Linked DNA regions of Homo sapiens: region 2 is linked to region 1. The links come from fine-mapping of genetic effects on gene expression. Tissue or cell type: lung. Region 1 holds a variant in brackets; the other region holds the start of a gene. All regions are shown on one strand. Distances are from middle to middle.

What was found. PIP is the estimated chance that this variant, and not a neighbour inherited with it, causes the effect.
Region 2: TNFRSF10B starts here. The variant in region 1 is fine-mapped to the expression of TNFRSF10B in lung (TOPMed, PIP 0.99). The same link has a PIP of 0.9 or more in fibroblasts and whole blood.

The regions. Positions count from the first base shown.
Region 1 is chr8:23,019,275-23,029,517 of GRCh38, forward strand. It overlaps RHOBTB2 (Rho related BTB domain containing 2), which reads left to right. Exons shown (of 10, transcript NM_015178.3): 10 at 1-925. It overlaps TNFRSF10B (TNF receptor superfamily member 10b), which reads right to left. Exons shown (of 9, transcript NM_003842.5): 5 at 9,057-9,328; 6 at 8,448-8,479; 7 at 7,859-8,014; 8 at 4,914-4,986; 9 at 859-3,710. The coding sequence ends at 3,397. Among named protein-coding and RNA genes, the nearest start is that of RHOBTB2-AS1, 25 kb to the left of the region's middle. RefSeq lists enhancers at 1-265, 266-828, 624-783, 8,971-9,471, 9,472-9,972. The variant T/C (reference allele first, on the strand shown) is at 2,947.
Region 2 is chr8:23,063,821-23,074,063 of GRCh38, forward strand. TNFRSF10B (TNF receptor superfamily member 10b) reads right to left here and starts at 5,211. Exons shown (of 9, transcript NM_003842.5): 1 at 4,931-5,211. The coding sequence starts at 5,074. It also overlaps the pseudogene TNFRSF10B-AS1. RefSeq lists enhancers at 4,595-4,854, 5,395-5,444, 5,465-5,634, 6,416-6,710, 7,032-7,531 and 1 more, promoters at 2,590-6,303, 5,071-5,741 and a cis regulatory region at 5,196-5,201.

The sequences.
Region 1 (10,243 bases):
GCGGCTGGAGGACAAGCGGCTCTAACCCTGGGGGCGGCCATGTTGTCCAGGCCCAGGCCCCTCCAGGACTGTGGCTGCCTCCCCTCCACGGCCTCCAGGGCGGCTGGCTGGAAAGCCACGCGTATGCTGCCCTCTACAGGCTGCTCGGCCTCCCTGCAGCTCAGCGCAGCCCAGGGCTCCAAGTGAGGCCCAGAAGCCCATGGGCAGGGCTGGGGGGACGAAGGGGGAACCCGGAGCACCTCCACTTCTAGGGAAGATGGACAGCGTGGGGGCACACCTGGGCCTCCCGGAAGCTGTGGACGAAAGGGAGAGCGGGTCCTCCAGGGCAAGGGGAACGGGAAATAGGTCTCCTAGGTGCCTGAAGCGCTGAGCAACCTGGGTACCCTGGTGGGGATGCAGGGAAGGCCGGGGCAGAGAAAGTGAAGGTCGACCCAGGGCTGTAGGAAGCCATAGGAGAGTGACCACGGGATTCCCTGAGAAACAGGGCCGGCCCCCCAACTTCAGGGACCCACCGCCCATTCCCCGAGAGCTGTCGGAACCAGATGCAACCCGGCAGCCCAGAGAACTCTCCTGGGAGGCTGTGGGTGAGCCAGGCCAACATTGGTGTCCCTGTCCCCAGAGGGAGGAGCAGGCAGGAGAGAGAGGGGAAGGAGGTATGAATCCCAGTCCCCAGGAACCTAGCTCTTTAAACTCTGGGGAGTCGGATTCAGGAAACACCCCCAGGAGGCCAAGCCTGAAAACAGAGGGGAGGGAGGAAGGAAGGAGTCCCAGCAGGAGCACAGCCCTGGTTTCCTGTCACTCAGAGCTGATTCACAGGAGGAGGGGAGGTTGGGGGGCGGGAGACAAAAACCACACCTCTTTTTATATAAGGTTTCATATTTAATTTGGTCATGGATTCATAAATACATAAGTATTTTGTACACAATGTGCTTCCTTGTTTGTATTATAACACATTTCAAATAGGGACCTTTGACAGGGCAGAAGCATGAAAGGACACCAACCACGAGTGACACACTATACTATGGCTGTCCTGTGTCACATGCTATTTGGCCTGGGGATATAGCAAAGCCTAATGTAACTAAACAACAAAACCCCCAATTATTTCATGTCGTCAGGAAGCTTACTTTAAAAGAATAGCTTGGCCTGGCTGGTGGCTCACGCCTGTAATCCCAGCACTTTCGGAGGCCAAGGTGGATCACCTGAGGTCAGGAGTTCGAGACCAGCCTGACCAACATGGTGAAACCCCGTCTCTACTAAAAATACAAAAATTAGCCAGGCGTGGTGGCGGGTGCCTGCAATCCCAGCTACTCCGGAGGCTGAGGCACGAGAATCGCTTGAACCCAGGAGGCGGAGGTTGCACTGAGCCAAGATCGTACCGTTGCACTCCAGCCTGGGCGAGAGAGTGAGATTCTGTCTCAAAAAAATTAAAAATAAAAGAAAAATCTTAAACACTGATAAGGCTGACACTCTAGATGCATCTTCTAGGAAGGCCTCTGTGGAAGGGACAAGGGACCTGGGACCGGACTGGCACCTTCTGAGCCCTGAGGCTGAGCGTCCTGCACAGAAGGCCCAGCAAAGGCAAAGACCAGGAGGCAGCAGCACCCTGTGCCTTCCAGAAGTGCAGGGGACAACGCGTGGGATGCCAGATGGAAGTGGGAGAGGATGGAAGTGCAAAGACCAGAAAGGTCACCCCCCACTCCTAAAACTCCACAGACACAACAGTCTGAATGTGTGATCTTCAGGCAATTCTAACTTTGTCCCACCCAAACCAGTCCCGGAACAAAACACACAATGCCTTGAGACAGAAAAGACCAAAAACTCCTGGAATGACTACCTGCATAAATGATCCTTCCATGACTGAAATACTATGGAGAAGGGTTTGCTGGAAAGAGGCTGAAATGGTTACTGAGGTCTTAAAACAATAATAGAACAGGACACAAGAAGAAAACCTTAATGCGTCAGCCATTCTAGGTCCTGTTGCCACAGTGTTTAAGAATTGACATTTCTGAGATGAGTCAGATGCTTACAGAGCGGCCAAGGTCCTCAAGTAGGCAATCTGTACCCTAAAAGGCAGCTCATGGGCTCAGGGTGACAGATAACCAGAAGTGAGCCGGGCCATCTACTCCTGAGATGGCAACCATTTCACACCATTCTCAAGCACCATCTACTCTTCCCCCTTGATGCCATGGCAGACGTGGGAGACAGATTTTGTCTTCTATCTCCTGAGCCCAAACAGGGCTCAAGTTCACTTGGGATATGACATAGACCCTATTGTTATGTGTGATCTAACCCATCTGCCTCTGTCCCAGCCTGTCCATAGATGGGGGCTATGGGTGCAAATGAGACTGCCCAGGTAGGGACCAGCCACACACAGGACTTCACGTGGATCCAGTTCTCTTTGGTCCCGACTCATATGTAAACAACTACCTATAAATAATACTCATATACTTGTAAGGTTGTCCAGTTCAAAAGACTGGCCCCTGTAGAAGTTGCCAATCATTGAAGCCAAAGTACATCTGAGGGAGGGCTGGAACCCAGACAGTGACATCTTACAGGGGACTTCTTCTTCTTCCCCCATTGTATGTCTCCTCCTTTTATGTTTATCTAATCTATTCACATAACTATGTAAACAAGTACATTTACTAAAGTTTCTTCATGTTCATAAAATAATAACATACAGAATTATAAAAGTAGAAAGGTAAGGCCAAGCATGGGGGCTCACGCCTCTAATTCCACCGCTTTGGGAGTCTGAGGTGGGCAGACTGCTTGAGTCCAGGAATTCGAGACCACCCTGAGCAACATAGAGAGCCCCTATATCTAGACAAAATACAAAAAATTAGCCGGGCGTGGTGGTGCACACCTGTGGTCCCAGCTATTTGGATGGCTGAGGTGGGAGAATCGCTTGAGCCTGAGAGGTCAAGGCTATAGTGAGCCAAGATTGCACCA[T/C]TGCACTCCAGCCTGGGAGACAGAGTGAACTGCCCCGCACCCCCCACCCAAAAAAGGTTCATATCATATAGTATCAAGTGAAGTCGGACAACGACTGTGTAGATGGATCTTACAATGTAGCCCAAATAAATAAATAAAGCATTTACATTAGGATAAAAAAGTGCTGTGAAAACAATGACATCCCAAACCAAATCTCAAAGTACGCACAAACGGAATGATCCAGACATTTCCATAGTGTCCTTATTATCACATTCAGCTTATAAAAATAATGCCAAGTGCAGTGAAAAGTTACAGGATGTTCCATCCACTGGGTGATGTTGGATGGGAGAGTTTCTTCCAGTACCGGTCATGTGACAATTGTGGCACTTTCCTACTGACTGGAGTCCAGTTGGGCTTTTTCCAGAAAAAAGGTAAACCAGGGAAGGTCTGACTTCCTGAAGAGAATCACACTTAGGACATGGCAGAGTCTGCATTACCTTCTAGATACATGAACTTTCCAGAGCTCAACAAGTGGTCCTCAATCTTCTGCTTGGCAAGTCTCTCTCCCAGCGTCTCCAAGGCATCCAGCAGGGTGTGGACAGAGGCATCTCGCCCGGTTTTGTTGACCCACTTTATCAGCATCGTGTACAAGGTGTCCCTGTGGCCCGCTGCCTCAGCTTTAGCCACCTTTATCTCATTGTCCATGAGGCCCAACTTCCTCATGAGCGGCTCCCAGGAGTCAAAGGGCACCAAGTCTGCAAAGTCATCGAAGCACTGTCTCAGAGCTGGTGGAGAAAGCCACAGAGACAGCCAGGTGAGTTGGGACTCAGAAAGGGCAGAGGATTCCACATCAGGCCCAGAACCCAAGGCGGGGAACCTGGAGAGCCCCGTGTGCGGGCAAACCTGCCGCTCCAGTGCCCACCCGCTTCCCATCCACAGAGAGCGCGCCCACACTGCCTGGCCTCCCCCACACGCAAGGCACTGCGGGGAGTCAAAGTCGTCAGAGAATCAGCCCTCATACAGGGCTGAGAACCCACCAGGGGAGTATGGATGGACGTTACAGAGGCAGAAAGTAAAGTGCGTGAGAGTCCGAGGGAGGGAGAGACAGTGGCTGCAGCGGGAGCTTAGAGGAGGGAGGAGGCTGCCTGGGCTGCGCTTGTCATGGGAGCAGGTCCCAGGGCGGCCACTTCTGCATCTGTGGAAAGCACAGGGCCTGGGACAGGGGACCTCTGTTTTCACCCAGCTCGGCCTCACTTCCTGGGGCTGGGGCAGAGCTAGGTGGAGGCAAACAGACTCTGAGCAAGAAGTGAACCCAAAGACCGAGCAATGCTGCCCAGATCTCGGGACGATGAGGGATTAAATGAGACGTGTGTGCAACATGATGCACCTCGCCGTCCTCAGAGATAGACAGGGTCAGGAACACGAGGCTATGTTTTCCAACAGCCTTATTTTAAAGAACATCAGAAACAAGTGACATTCATTTTAATGTATGGTACTGAATATATTTAAAATATAATTTAATATACAATCAATATACAAAAATTATGAGTGAAATATTTTCCACTCTTTTTTGCATTAAGTCTTTGGCATTCGTATGTAGTTTACACAACAGCTCTGCAAATTGGGCTGAGGCACAGGTCAAGAGCTCCTTAGCCCACTGGGGTTAGTGGTGCTGTGCAGGACAGGCCAGCCCCTCAGGAGGTCCTCAGGGGCAGGCGGGGGCTACATCAGGCCCTGAACAAAGGAGGAGAGAGGATGAGGGGACGGACAGAGTCATTAGGGTCAATGATAGGGTGCAGAGAGGATGAGGTAGAGTGGGGAGAAGAGATGGGAGAAGACAGTTTAGGGTCCAGATGGTCTATAGCACAGGACCCACGGCTTCCAGCATGGAATACTCTGGAAGAGCCCTCTGACCTCTGGGGACAGCAGTTAGGACCCTGTCCCTATTCCCTCCATTCCTGCTGCATCTCCAGGAGCAAAACACTTACTCTCAGTGGGATCACCTTCATTTGCTGGAACCAGCAGCCTCCTCCTCTGAGACCTTTCAGCTTCTGCCGGTTCCTGTAACACATAGTGGGGAATGTCCTGGTCAGAGCCAGGAGTCCTACAGTCCAGTACTGACCCCGACCACCAGCCAGCTCTGAGACCTGCAGCACGTCACTTCCAGAACATTGTTCTGAAAGGTCTGGCAACAAGACAGGAGACAAAGGGGCAAGACTCTCGGAAGGAGGCCGATACAGCAGTCAATATTTTAGATTAGGAGTGTATATTTTTAAAACCCCAAGGTTTAATTTGTAATACTCAAAAGTGAATATGTCTTGATGATTTTTTTTTTTTTCGAGACAGAGTCTCACTCCGTCTCCCAGGCTGGAGTGCAATAGTGCGATCTTGGCTCACTGCAACCTCCACCTCTGGGTTCAAGAGATTCTCCTGCCTCAGCCTCCCAAGTAGCTGGGATTACAGGTGTGCACCACCATGCCCAGCTAATTATTTTATCGTATTTTTATATTTTTAGTAGAGACAGGGTTTCACCATGTTGGCCAGGCTAGTCTCAAACTCCTTACCTCAGATGATCCATCCGCCTCGGCCTCCCAAAGTGCTGGGATTACAGGCGTGAGCCACTGCACCTAGCCCTGATGAATGTTAAACCACATAGCAGAGGCCAGGCATGGTGGCTCACACCTGTAATCCCAGCACTCTGGGAGGCTGAGGTGTGAAGACTGCTTGAGCCCAGGAGTTTGAGACCAGCCTAGGCGACATAGCGAGATCCTGTTTCTAAAAATAAAATAAAATAAAATAAAATAAGCTGGGTGTAGTGGCACAAAACTGTCGTCCGAGCTACTCAGAAGCCGGTAAGTCCGAGCTTACTTGGCCTTAGAAGGTCAAGGCTGCAGTGAGCCATGATTGTACCACTGCACTCCAGCCTGGGTGACAAGAGTGAGACCCATCTCAGAAAGAAAGAAAAGAAAAGTAGCAGCAGACATAATAAATTAGAAAATGGACTTACAAGAAGACCCAAAATGCAAAGAAACAGCTTTGATGAGGAATAGGAAAAATTTATCTGAAATAAACTCCCAAATCTCGATTGAGTCATAATAGAACACTTGACTTGAAATATTATCTTCTTTGATAATAAAATTGAATGTTGAAAGGATGTCAATCATTCCTAGAACCATGTATTAATTTAAATTAATATTTGTAAAGTCTAGTGACTATGTGGGCGGGAGGGGTACTAGAGAAAATCTTATAATTCTAAATTTTATCTAATTCTAAATTATAAGATGTGTAAAAATAATTTTGAAAACATATTTGCTGTCTAAGATATTAAAACATATTAGACAGTTTTGTTTGGTGTTGTACATGATATAATCCTTTTCATGTCAATACCACATAAATACATATGCATTTATGTACCTAGATGGTATATGCATAAAGAGTTTAGCAAAGAATCACAAGAAATTATCCACTGTAGTTACCTGAAATAAGAAGGGCCAAAAGGCTGGGAAAGAGTAAAGAAGGCTCTTGGTATGATCAAGTTTTTTCATACTCTGGTGGATGTGTGGCTATGGGTGACCTGCTTTCAAAAAATGATCAGGCCAGGCATGGTGGCTCATGCTTGTAATCCCAGCATTTTGGGAGGCCAAGGAGGGTGGATTGCCTGAGTTCAGGAGTTCGAGACCAGCCTAGGCAACATGACCAAACCTCGTCTCTACAAAAAATACAAAACTTAGCTGGGCACGGTGGCACATGCCTATAGTTCCAGCTACTCAGGAAGCTGAGGTGAGAGGATGACATGAGCCCAGGAGGCAGGGGTTGCAATGAGCCAAGATGGTGCCACTGCACTCCAGCCCAGGTGATAGAGCAAGATCCTGTCTCAAAAAAAAAAATCTTCAAAGTCATTAATAAGCATGGAGGAAGTATTGGCATTGTTCATTTGTTTCCTTTTAAAATCTCTTCTCTTTATTTAAAAAGAAAGTGGTACAGATGCAAGGAAGAAACAGAAACAGTCTAGGTGGAAGAGATCTCTGCCCATATAAACATTTGACATTTTCAAGGATAAGATCTAGTTTTTTTTTGTTTGTTTGTTTTTTTAAAAAAGAGTGAAGAGGAAGAGAGAAAAAAGTAAACATTTGACATGTAGCAAAGGAGGTGGCAAAAGGGCAAAGGCAAGGGAAAAAGGAAGAATTGGTTGCTAAATGGGCTTGGAAGAAGGAAACAGAGACTCAGAATAATTCAGGGAGTTTCTCAGCTTATATTGAATCGAAAATTCAATTCTGTTTAGATTATATTGCTGTATGTTAAAAATCAAATCATTAAAAATAAAACACTGCAGGAAACTGGATAGTCTCATCTTATGTTCGAGGGAAGGACTTTCAGTGCTTACGAGCAATGAACAATAAATGTATATACAGATTTCCTGCCTACTCAATATCACATCAAAACTGATGGATTGATATGAACTGATTGTGTGCGTGTGTCCAATACAAAAGCCCTTTGTGCATCGACTTGGAATCCTACTTTTTGGAAGCTGCCCTACGAACTTTGAAATATGTTCAATGTAATAACAATTTCAGAGTAAATTTAAAACTCCTGCTGTTACAAGCAAGGGCTCACTGACTTCTGTTAGGAGCATACGATGGAGACTGTGCAGCCTTATTCACTCATCAATGAACCCTGTGACCCCCACTCTATGCCTGTGGAGCTCCAGGCTCGGGGGACACAGCAAGGACAGGACAGGGAGTAAGAAGCAGATGTCCTGCAGACTGGCACGGTCACCACCTCAGTGCAGCTGCTCCATCCCCTGCAGTCCCCTGGCTCCTTCAGGTTCCATTTCCCCTGGGCCAGGAGAGCTAAGGCACTGCCCTCTCCCACTGTCTACGAAATCCCAGGTGAGCAGCATGCCAGGAAACAAAATGATCTGTCCCCCACTCACCAGCAGATGCTCTGACTCCCCGGGGGACAACATGTTGACACCTGTTGGCTCTGCTGGCTCCTGGACTTCCATTTCCTGCTCAGGGACCTGGGTGGGCTGCAAGATACTCACGATCTCATTGAGGACATTGTCCTCAGCCCCAGGTCGTTGTGAGCTCTGGAAAAAGACATTGGGAAGGCAAAAAGCCGACTCAGGAGTCCACACCTAGGGCTCGCTGCAGGGTCCTCAGTATGCAGCTGCACCTGACATCCCCACCCCCTCTCAGTGAGGTCACCGCAGGCAGCCCAGACTCAGCACATCCAGGACCCGCTGCTGGGGCCAGGCCCCCAGTGCTGTGCTCAGGCAGACACCCCATCCCTAGGGTGCAGGCTGTGGGGTGAGGATGTCACCTGGGCTGCAGCAGGGCTCACCAGCCTATGTGGTGCTCAAAATGGCCATGTGTCCCCCACAGTCAGCCCAGAGCACCCAGGCCACTTCAGAGAGTCAGGGCAGCCATGAGGACAATGGGGACCCACCCACCCAGGTTCTGCTGTCCCAGGAAGCAGTTCCTGAACCCCTGAGCCCCCAGCTCCTGGAGAAATCAACTCACTCTGTCCACACGCTCAGGGTCCCCACCACCACCTAAAAAAGAAGCAGTCTCCTTAGCAGGAAGGGAGGGGCCCATGAAGCACCCCCCTCCCAGAGGACAGTGGGGCGCAGGGCTGGGCTGGGGGCTGGGACACTGGACAAGGAGCCCTGGGGCTGGGGACAGAATGGGGCCTTACAACTCAGAGACACCCTGAGGAAGGGGGATGAGAAGGGGAACTAGAGTAAAAACAAACACTTGGAAAATCTCTGGTTCTGCTCTGACCAAGGCTGAAAAAATCCCACGACCACTTCTCATCCTCACCCTTGTCACCCAGTTGAGGAGCCGACTGCCCCCTGCCTGGCTGGGCCTGAAGATGGGAGGAACTGGCCCTGCCCTCCTGGACTTGGCTGGGAGATATGGGGACCCCCAGACCTGGGAGAGGGACTGAAGAGACCAGGGTCCTGGGGGGTGCACGGGATGTGGGGATGGGGGTGACCACGAGGAGGAGGATAGAGCCAGGCTGGAGGCACTTAGACTTGGGGCAGGGGCAGGCGTTTCTGTCTGTGGGAATAGGGTGGGAGGGGGCAGGGCAGAGAGTGCCCTGTGCCCCCGCCCTCAGCCAGCACCTACCTGAGCAGATGCCTTTCAGGTAAGGAAGGACTTTCTTCCACAGTAAAGACTTGCAAACAAACACAGCCACAATCAAGACTACGGCTGCAACTGTGACTCCTATGATGATGCCTGAGAGAGAACAGGGAGAGGCAGGAGTCCCTGGGCTGGAGGTCACCGTCTCCTCCACAGCTGGGACTTCCCCACTGTGCTTTGTACCTGATTCTTTGTGGACACATTCGATGTCACTCCAGGGTGTACAATCACCGACCTTGACCATCCCTCTGGGACACCTGGGTACACACACAGAGGGAGAGGGGGGACTCTTGATGGAAAGCTGGCCAGGTGGGATGAAAGAGGAGCCACCCTCCCTCCCCAGTGTCCCTGAGAAGGTGTCAGGGGAAGGACAGTCTCCTCGTGTCAGCAGTGGGTCCCCCTGTGCTCCCTTCTTGAGGCTGGGGAAGGGTCTGAGCATGCGCACTTCAGCCCCTCGGCCTCCCTGCTCTGGGGTCAGAGCTGCAGTTCCAGGAGCCTTCTGTGCTGGGCACACACTGAGCTTCCCTGGGCTGCAGGGGAGGCCTGCGTTAGGAGCAATCACACTCCAGGGGAAGGTCACAAGCCCGTGTGGCCACAAGATGAGTCCGGTCTTCCAGTCAACCACAAAAGTGAGCTCTTGTCCCCAGCTGTCTGCCCATTTCCCCCAATCACAGCAAATACTAGGGGGGCCAGAGAAGAGCAAATTACTCTTGGCCCCTAAAACCCAAATAGGGAAAAGACAGGTCTTACTGAGGGATCAGGGGCCAGGGGTGAGGCCGGCTGGGTGGGCTCAGGTCCTCATGGGAACTTGAAGGAGCTCCACCCATGGCCTTATTATGCCTTTTGTGGGCCATGGGCACTTTTGTCTTTATGGGCCCCTGCATGCATAAAAATATTAAAAAATACATTTTATTGCTGAATTGGTATAAAGATGAATATATGCCTGGCTGCATTCTACTCATTCTTCTTATTTCAAGAGAAATTAAATCATTTCATGGGCCCCTAAAATTATCATGGGCCCCAAGTCATGGCCTTCTGTGGTCAGTGAACAAGTCAGCCTGGTCAAGGGGACTCGTGCTGGGGAGGGGTGGAAAGAGGCTGCTGCAGGGGGCAGGGGTGGTGACACGCAGAGGGACCAGGAGGGGCAGCCACAGCCTCAAGGATGCCCCTTG
Region 2 (10,243 bases), 45 kb after region 1:
TGACAATGGCCTTGGTGACTCTGGACTTGGGTGATCCTCCGTACTCTATTCAGATCCTCTGTTCTGTCCTCAGCCTGCCTGCCACACTCCCCACCTCTCACGTTTAACACACTCTATGAGCAGGCTGAGGACACAACGTCTGGGTTAGTGCAGCTTCCTAGAATCCACGTTACTCATTCATTCATTCATGGAAGGCATGTAGGCGCCTGGCGACCGCATATGCAAGGAGCCGTGGAGTATCGGGAACATGGCACGGCCCTTCCTTTCCTTAGCACAGTTTCCATTCACAGGAGCTGAGGCACAGCCATCATTAACCCCAAAGTCCATGAACTTGCAAAGAGTCTGGAGGGGCTGCCCAGGCAGAGGTGACAAATGCCATCGGTGGCAGGGACAGTAGTGGACATAGAGGAAAGAGTGCACACAGACAGAATCCCAGACAGACAGGAATCCAGTGTAATGGGGGAGGGGAGTAAAAACAAGAGAGGTACTGCTGAATTAATATTGTAATATGATTACAAAATGTAGGAGAGTTGAAATAATATAGATCCATTCATCACCATTCACTCTTTCTGCTGTGCAGGACGAGGCTGTGCCGTCCGTGGGCCTCTCTGATTGAGGGAGAATGGGCGTGTGGCCAGAGATGCACAGCTGTGTTGGGCCACAGAAATGGGCTCATGGGGGTGTCCATGGGCATGGTTAAGAGAGAGAAGGAAAACAAGAAGAAGGGAGGTCAGGGGTTTGGCTTATTTCAGTTCTTGTCCCATTGAATTCTAGGGACCCTGCCTCCTCCCGGACATGAGCCATTGGCGGGGTTTCCCTGTCTTGTGACTCACCCACCTGTGATTCAGGCTCCTTGCTTTACACCAAGTTTGAGCATAAAACCTGCTAATATTTCTCGTCAAAAATTAACCCGAGTAACCTCTTCTTTCCTCTCTGAGTCACCCACATCCTTAAAACTGCCCAGGATAATCACAGTTCCTGCATAGGTTGTTGTGTGAACTGAAAGTGTTAATATGTATGGAAAGTGCTTAAAACACAGAACTTTAAACACATGCTCTGATTAGTACGATCATTACCCTCAATGTTGATTTTAAGCAAACCATATTATCCTGGCCAAACTACCATGACCTGGAGCCTTGGGACTGCACAGCCTCCCTCTGTCAGTCAAATATGGAGGGATGACATCTCTGGAGCCAGCACAGCCACTCTGGAGGTGGGGGAGGTGACAGTGGTGGGACCTCATGCTTCCTGATAGTTATTTAGGTCCCTGCTGTCACCTGCTCCACCAGACTGTGGGCTCCAGGGAGTAGTCAGTATTCACACAGGGCTCATTTGTCCTTCCCCAACCCAGGCACAGATTTTCCCAGAGTAAAGGGTTCCTCCTCTACCTGATGAATGAATCACTCCTGTCCCCGCCGCCAAGCACATGCAGTGAGACTAGCTGTGGCCTCAGCTCACTGCGTAAGGACAGCCTCCAGCTACAGCAGGGGCAGAGGACCCTGTAGAGCTCTGTAGTCTCTGTTGAGAACCACAGGCAGGAACTCCCAGAGGCCAAGTGCAGGGCAGAGACTGGGAGAAGCAGCTGCCTGGAGGACTCTGGATCCTTGCAGAAGACATGTCCAGTGTCTGCTGAGACTGACTCTAGGTGCCTGAGAAGAAGCCACCCAGGGAAGGAGAGACTAGATTGTGGACCACTCAGGGCTGGGAGATCTGCATGTTCCCCTTCCCACAGTGGACAGAACGCATGCCAGGGTGCTGGCGAGTTACCATCAGAAGTCAACCACTATAACTTTAGTAGTTAACTAAATGAGCCCCTGAATAAGGCAACTGAACACAAGGTATATAGTTATATGTAGATAAAAGCTAGTATCAGAGGAGCAAACTGATCCTCAGTTTTCTGTGACCAGAATAATGCCCAATAGACTTTGAAAGAACACAGTGATGTTCGGTACCCAAGAAAGCAAAATTCACAATGTCAAGCAATAAGAAATTACTATGCATGAAAAAAAAAGTCCCTATGGGCAGGAAAAAAAATGTAATCAACAGAAACAGTGGCCGTAATAACAGATATAATGGTGTTGATAGATTAAATAACTTAAAACAGGTCATCTAAAGCTTACAAATATACTCAAGAATATTTAAAAAACAGAAAAACAAAAAACACCACCACCAAAATCATAGGTTGCGCACGGTGGCTCAGGCCTGTAATCCCAATACTTTGGGAGGACAAGGTGGGAGGATTCCTTGAGCGCAGGAGTTTGAGACCAGCCTGGGCAACATGGTGAAACCCCGTCTCTACTAAAAATACAAAAATTAGCCAGGTGTGGTTGCAAGTGCCTGTGGTCCCAGCTACTTGGGAGGCCGAGGTGGGAGGATCACTTGAGCCCAAGAGGTTGAGGCTGCAGTGAACTCTGACTGTGCCACTGCACTCCAGCCTGGGTGACAGAGTAAGACCCTGTCTCAAAAAAGAAAAACACAAAGATGACCAGGAAATAGATGGAAGATATTAAAAATGCCAAAAGAGAACTTCTAAAGTTCAAAAAATATATATCTGATATACAGTAGATGAGATTAACAGCAGGTTAGATTCTGCAGAAGCAGATCAATGAACTTGAAGAGCCCTCACAGGGAAATGTCCAAAGTGAAACATAGAAAATGATGGGGGAAAAAAAAGAACAGATACTAAGTTAGCTCTGATACAAAATCTAACATTCTAACGTAAATATAATAAGATCTCAGTCACCAGAAGAGACAGAGTATTTGAAGAAATAATGGCTGAAAATCTTCCAAGTAGAACATAAACTCGGCTGGGCGTGGTGGCTCACCCCTGTAATCCCAGCATTTTGGGAGGCTGAGGCGGGCAGATCACGAGCCAGACCATCCTGGCTAACACGGTGAAACCCCGTCTCTACTAAAAATACAAAAAGTTCGCTGGGCGTGGTGGTGCATGCCTGTAGTCCCAGCTACACGGGATGCTGAGGCAGGAGAATGGCGTGAACCCAGGAGGCAGAGGTTGCAGTGAGCTGAGATCCCACCACTGCACTCCAGCCTAGGCGACAGAGGCAAGACTCCATCTCAAAACAAACAAACAAACAAACAAAAACATAAACTCTAAAACCCCAAATCCAAGAAATTCAACATAACTCTGTTGTGGCTTTCTTTCTTTCTTTTTTTTGAGTTGGAGTCTTGCTCTTGTCTCCCAGGCTGGAGTGCAGTGGCGCCATCTCTGCTCACTGCAACTTCTGCCTCCCAGGTTCAAGTGATTCTCCTGCCTCAACCTCCCAAGTAGCTGGGATTGCAGGTGCCCACCACCACACCCAGCTAATTTTGTATTTTTAGTAGAGACGGGGTTTCACCATGTTGGTCAGGCTGGTCTCGAATCCCTGACCTCATGTGATCTGCCCGCCTCGGCCTCCCAAAGTGCTGGGATTACAGGCATGAGCTACCAGACCCGGCTGTTGTGGCTTTCTTTACAGAAAAGTCTCCAAGGAGAACATAAACTCTAAAACCCCAAATCCAAGAAATTCAACACAACCCAGTTGTGGCTTTCTTTACAGAAAAATCTTCCAAGTAGAAAGAACATGAAAGTCTAAAGCCAAAAATCCAAAAAATTCTTTATAGAGATAAAAAAAAAACCCCACAACAGAGCAAACAAACCAAATCACTGCAAACCAGTGCTAAGAAAAATCTTTAAAAGCAGCCAGAGACCAAAGATCCACCACCCAAAGAGAGGCAAGATGCCCTGGGGACCTAGGCCCACAGAAACCACAGCAGGAGGGGGAGGCAGAGGCCCCTGTACACTCTCCTCACTAGGACAGTTAGGTCCTCCCTCCACTCAGAGGTGAGACCAAGGACATACTGTGGTGTGGGGCGGAAACAGTGAAAACATGAGGTGTGTAACAATATCCCATGAAACTCCAATGCTTCACACTGACATTCTTCTAGGTCAACACCAGCATTCTCTTGACCTTCCTTTCACTGTTCCTCCTCTCCCTTCCAGCCCCTCTGTACAGTCTTGAGTTAGGTCTAGGCCCACACACTTCCCCACTCTGAGCTGCGGTCTCTTCCTCTGTAAAATGTGATGATTCAGAACCTCTCCTGGCCCCAAGCGCAGTTCCAGGCGCTGAGCACACCATGCTGTTCCCTACAAAGCCGACTCTTTGTCCCTTCCCCATTATCACGGATACTTGCCAAGAGGTGGCAAGAAAGGCTCTTCCCAGGCCAAAATGCAGCTGCTATTATCAAGCAGGTCAGGCCCCAAGTGCCACAACTCCCTTCTCCTAAATCTCGTTTTCCCAAGGAACCCCAAACAATGGCATTGGCGATGAGCGGCCCCGCACGCGTAGGGGCGCAGCCGCTAAGGAGGGGAAGGGGCCTCTCCAGCTGCGCCCGCGACGACTCCCGCGCACGGAACGGAACCACTGGGCCGCAGCGACCACAGGGGAGTTCTTCGCCGGCCGCAGGTTCAAAGCGATCTGCAATGAGCGCCTTTAGGAATTCATTCGAAGGCGCAAAAGAAAAAGAAATTAAGGCAGGAACTGAGCGAGGAAGGAAGGGAGGGAAAGAAAGGAAGAAAGAGAAAAAGAGAAAGAAACAGAAAGTAAGGAAAGAAAACAAAATCAAAGTCCGACGACCTCTCCGTGGCTTCACGCAGCTTACTCGGGAATTCCCTCCTTGTCGCCCTCCCCCACTGGATTCGGGAATTTACACCAAGTGGAGCGCGCGCTCTGTTCCCTGGCGGCCCAGGTCGCTCCTGCCCAACCCGGGGACCCATCTCTTCCCCCGACTCCGACGACTGGTGCGTCTTGCCCGGACATGCCCGGCCGCAGGCGACCCGGGCCACGCACCCCCGCCGTGTCCCCCTCTCTCCCTGCCCTCTCCAGGCGCCAGGCACGCTCTTCCCCAGCCAGGGACCGCGGCGGGGACTCACCAACAGCAGGACCGCGGCGACAACGAGCACAAGGGTCTTGGGGACCCGGGGCCCAGGCCTGGCTCCCCGCGCCTCCCTGGGTCCTGGGCCGTGCCTTTTCCGGGCCCCCGAAGCGGCCGGGGCGTTCTGTCCCCGTTGTTCCATGGCGGTAGGGAACGCTCTTATAGTCTCTCAGGCCCGTGGGTTTCAGCCCTTAAAGTAGATCGGGCATCGTCGGTGTATTTTGTGGGCGCAGAGATTGCGGGGTTCTCCGGCCGCGTGCTGATTTATGTGTCCAGGCTGACTTGGGGCGGCGCGGCTGTACTTTCACTGCCTCCGGGCAGGCGTCATTCGGGGCGGGGCGAATCAGATCCAATGTGCAACTGCAAATTCCACCACAGGTTGGTGACAATAAATAAGAGTCTCGTCAACGCAATCCTCCGCAAGCGCGTCCAAGTGGGGAGGGGAGGGGAAGGGACCGGAACTAACCTTCGCCCTGGCGGCTGCGCCCCGGGCTGTGGTTTGTTTCTGGGTCCTGTCCGCGCCAGGACAGGCACCGAAACTTGGGGGAAATGAGTTGAGGGAGGCACTTGGGGAGTTGACGCCTCCCGGGGTCGCGCGCTTGGCTGTGAACAGGGTCTTGAGGTTCAGAGTCCGCTTTCCAGGCGCGTCTTGATCTTCTCCCCTTCCCAGGGGCACCTGCCCCTTCTGTTCTCTCCTTCTCTCTTCTTTCCTTTTTTCTTTCGTTTTCTTTCGTTCTTTCGTCTTCTTTCCGTCCTTCCTGCTTTCTCTTTCCTTCCTTTCTCTCTTTCTCTTTCCTCCCTCCCTCCCCCTCCCCCTACCTCCCTTCCTTGTGGTTTATTTTTTGAGACAGTCTCTCTGTGGCTCAGATTGGTGAGCGGTGGTGTGATCCCGGCTCACTGCAACTTCCGTCTCCCAGGTTCAAGCGATACTCCCACCTCAGCCTCCCATGTAGCTGGGACTACAGGCCTGCACCACCACGCCTGGCTAATTTTTGTATTTTTAGTAGACACAGGGGTTCACTATGTTGGCCAAAAGACCATCGAACCCAGCTTACACTCACACCTAGTCCACAAATGTGCCTGTGTCCCTGCACCCTTGCTACACTTAGCTTTCATTTGTCACTAGTCTAGGAAATAAAACATGATACATCACATTGTTATGTATTTTCATTCCTTCATGGTACTGTGTCCGGAATTGGTGGGTTCTTGGTCTCACTGCCTTCAAGAATGAAGCCTCGGACCCTCGCGGTGAGTGTTACAGTTCTTAAAGGCGGCGTGTCTGGAGTTTGTTCCTTCTGATGTTCGGATGTGTTCGGAGTTTCTTCCTTCTGGTGGGTTCGTGGTCTCACTGGCTCAGGAGTGAAGCTGCAGACCTTCCCAGTGAGTGTTACAGCTCTTAAGGCAGTGGGTCTGGAGTTGTTCTTTCCTCCTGGTGGGCTCGTGGTCTCGCTGGCTTCAAGAGTGAAGCTGCAGACCTTCAAGGTGAGTGTTACAGCTCATAAAGGCAGTGTGGACCCAAAGAGTGAGCAGTAGCAAGATTTATTGCAGAGGGAAAGAAGGAAGCTTCCACAGTGTTACCACTGCTGGCTCTGGCAGCCTGCTTTTATTCTCTTATCTGGCCCCACCCACACCCTGCTGATTGGTAGAGCGGAGTGGTCTGTTTTGACAGGGCGCTGATTGGTGGTTTACAATCCCTGAGCTAGACACAAATGTTCTCCACTTCCCCACCAGATTAGCTAGATACAGAGTGTGGACACAAAGGTTCTCCAAGGCCCCACCAGACTAGCTAGATACAGAGTGTCAATTGGTGCATTCACAAACCCTGAGCTAGACACACGGTGCTGATTGGTGTGTTTACAAAACTTGAGCTAGATACACAGTGCCAATTGGTGTATTTACAATCCCTTAGCTAAACATAAAGGTTCTCCACGTCCCCACCAGACTCAGGAGCCCAGGTGTCGTCACCCAGTGGATCCCGCACCGGGGTTGCAGGTGGAGCTGCCTGCCAGTCCCGCGCCGTGCTCCCGCGCCGTGCGCCCGCACTCCTCAGCCCTTGGGTGGTCGATGGGACTGGGCGCCCTGGAGCAGGGGGAGGTGCTCGTCGGGGAGGCTCCGGCTGCACAGGAGCCCACGGAGGGGGTGAGAGGCTCAGGCATGGCGGTCCCGAGCCCTGCCCGTCGGGAAGGCAGCTAAGGCCCGGCGAGAAATCAAGCGCAGCGCCAGTGGGCCGGCACTGCTGGGGGACCCAGTACACCCTCCGCAGCCGCTGGCCCGGGTGCTAAACCCCTCATTGCCCGGGGCCGGCAGGGCCGGCCGGCTGCTCCGAGTGCAGGGCCCGCCGAGCCCACGCCCACCCGGAACTCCAGCTGGCCCGCAAGTGCCGCGCGCGCAGCCCCGGTTCCCGCTCGCGCCTCTCCCTCCACACCTCCGTGCAAGCTGAGGGAGCGGGCTCCAGCCTTGGCCAGCCCAGAAAAGGGCTCCCACAGTGCAGCGGTGGGCTGAAGGGCTCCTCAAGTGCCGCCAAAGTGGGAGCCCAGGCAGAGGAGGCGCCGAGAGCGAGCGAGGGCTGTTGAGGACTGCCAGCAAGCTGTCACCTCTCAGTACTACGGATTTTCAAGAATACAGGAGTTTTTGGTACTGGGAGTAGATGACTGGGGGGATCCAGGCAAGACTACAGGGGAGGGCGGCAGAGAAGACTTAATTCCCAGCTGTGTACTTGGAAAACCGTGCTCAGCTGGGGCCAGTCCCTGCCAACCGCCATGCCTGTTAATGGAAATAAGGTCTCCATCCTCAGGCTGTCAGGGTGACTTCAGATGAGCCTGGAGCTGAGCTCAGTTCCGGACCCCAGGTCCTGGCTCTGTCAATGCCGGACTGGTCCAATCTCTATGCCAGGTCCTTCCAACCCCATCCCTCTCTTTATCAAAGTAGGAATCAAGAAGATCCGAAGGCTCAGGCTCTCAGGTTGTTAGAGAGTACTGAAATTGGAGGCTGTGGATGGCTGGGCCCTGCCGTGCTCCCGGTCCAGCTCTGACTCTGGTATGGCCCCAGCTCCTTCCTGTAAAATGAGGGGATAAAAATCTTCAGCAGCCCTGTGTAAACTTCTGCAGGCTCTGTTAACAGGTCTAGGAGGACAAATTGCAGGGCTGGTGTCAGTCACTCTAGACTCTGGATCCCCAGGGCACATGTCCTCCACTCAGCAGAGGCTGCACCTTCTCCTACCTGTACCTCAGTACCAGCTCCCTGAGCTTGAGGCAGAAATTTCTGAAGACTGGGGTGGAGCGCCATGCGGAGGGGCCGTAGAGGAACAGACGAGCCAGAATTCAAATGAGGACGGTGATGGCACTGCAGGGCCACAGCCTGGTTTACCTGCCACTCTTCCAATTGTCTTTCTGTTGGGCACCCAGCCGGTGCCCCAGTTTGAAGAGTGAGCAGGAAAGGTCTCAATCCGTGTGGCCACAGATGGCTGTTCACAGCCTCTACTGAGAGACCACAGTCCCAGTTCCGGTTCTCTGTCCTGCATCCAGAAGTGGCAGGGCAGCGAGGCTCTAGCTTCCAGGTTGGGGATGGGGACAGTGGAGACAGTGCCATGCCCTGAGCCTGTGCTGTTGGGCAGCTGGTGTCCTGCTCCCAGCCAGAGACTGCACATCTTCATGTAGTGGATTTTCCTAACAACCTGGGGACATGAGAGTAGGTTGTTTTCCCTGTTTTACAAGTGGCAAAACTGAGATTCAGGAGCAGTGTCTCCAGCATTTTTGGCCTCACCTTCTGTATAATAGCAGCCATATTTGCACCTCTACAGGGCTAGAGTTCTCTGAGCAGCTGCTTCTCTATTCTCTGTCCTGCACTTGGCCTCTGGGAGCTCGTATGGTTCCTCAGCAGAGTCCACAGGGCCCTCCCTGTGCTACAGCCTGGAGCCTGTCAGGCGGTGAGCTGAAGCCACGACTGCACTCACCTCATGGGTTTGCGGGGAGAATGATTCACCCAGGAAGCAGACAGTGAGCCCTTTACTCTGGGAACACCTGTGCCTGGAGTCTGCTGAAGGCAGGGAGGACAAATGAACCCCATGTGAATCCTACTCCCTGGAGCCTACAGTGTGGTGGGAGAGGTGACACCAGGGGTCATATAACTAATAGGAGGTAGCATGAGGGAGGCCTGAGATCTCACCACCCTTGCCTCCCCCTCCTCCAGAGAGGCTGTGCTGGAGGGAGGCCATGCCATTGCAAGGCCATAGGATGTGGTATTGTTTGCCTGGAAGATGTGGTTTGATTACAGCCACCATTGAGGGTCATGGAGGCAAGCTAAGCTCCCTTTAAGGGTATTTTTTTTTTGGCTGGGCCTGAGAATTAAGTTGACATAAGACAGGTCCACAGGAGAAAAGCACACAAATTAATACAATGCAAGTTTTACATGGCACAGAAAAAGCAGTGAGAGTCAGTTACTTATATACTGAATTAGACCAAGTAACTTGGGAAGAAGCAAGTAAATATGTGGAGGCTAAAAAGATGAGTTATTCTATTCTTTTTTTTTTAATATCTGCTCCTTTAAGGAATAAAAAAGACAAGCTTACCTTTTAAAATATATTTTACATATGTATACAATCTAAATTTATTTTTCTCTCTTTATCCCTGAATACTTTATTATTTTTTTTTTAATTTTTTGGAGACAGAGTCTTGCTGTGTCGCCCAGTCTGGAGTGCAGTGGCATGATCTTAGCTCACTGCAAGCTCCGCCTCCTGGGTTCACGCCATTCTCCTGCCTCAGCCTCCCAAGTAGCTGGGACTACAGGTGCCCGCCACCACACCCGGCTAAATTTTGTATTTTTAGTAGAGACAGGGTTTCACCATGTTAGCCAGGCTGGTCTCTATCTCCTGACCTTGTGATCCACCTGCCTCGGCCTCCCAAAGTGCTGGGATTACAGGCGTGAGCCACCACGCCCGGCCTACTTTATTATTTTATTTTTACTTTAAGTTCTGAAATACATGCGCAGAATGTGCAAGTTCGTTACACAAGTATACTTTTGCCAGCGATGCACCTGCTGTTTTTCAATAGCCTTTAATTCATAATAGTCAATGGGCCAGGGTAGGCAGGGTGCAATGGCTCACACCTGTAGTCCTGCCAAGGCGGGCAGATCACTTGAGCCCAGGAGTTCAAGACCAGCCTGGGAAACATAGCAAAACCCATCTCTACAAACAATAACAACAACAAAACCCACAGAAAATTAGCCTGGTGCAGTGGCCTGCACCTGTAGTCCCAGCTGTTTAGGAGGCTGATGTGGGAGGATCACCTGAGCCTGGAAGGTTGAGGCTGTAGTG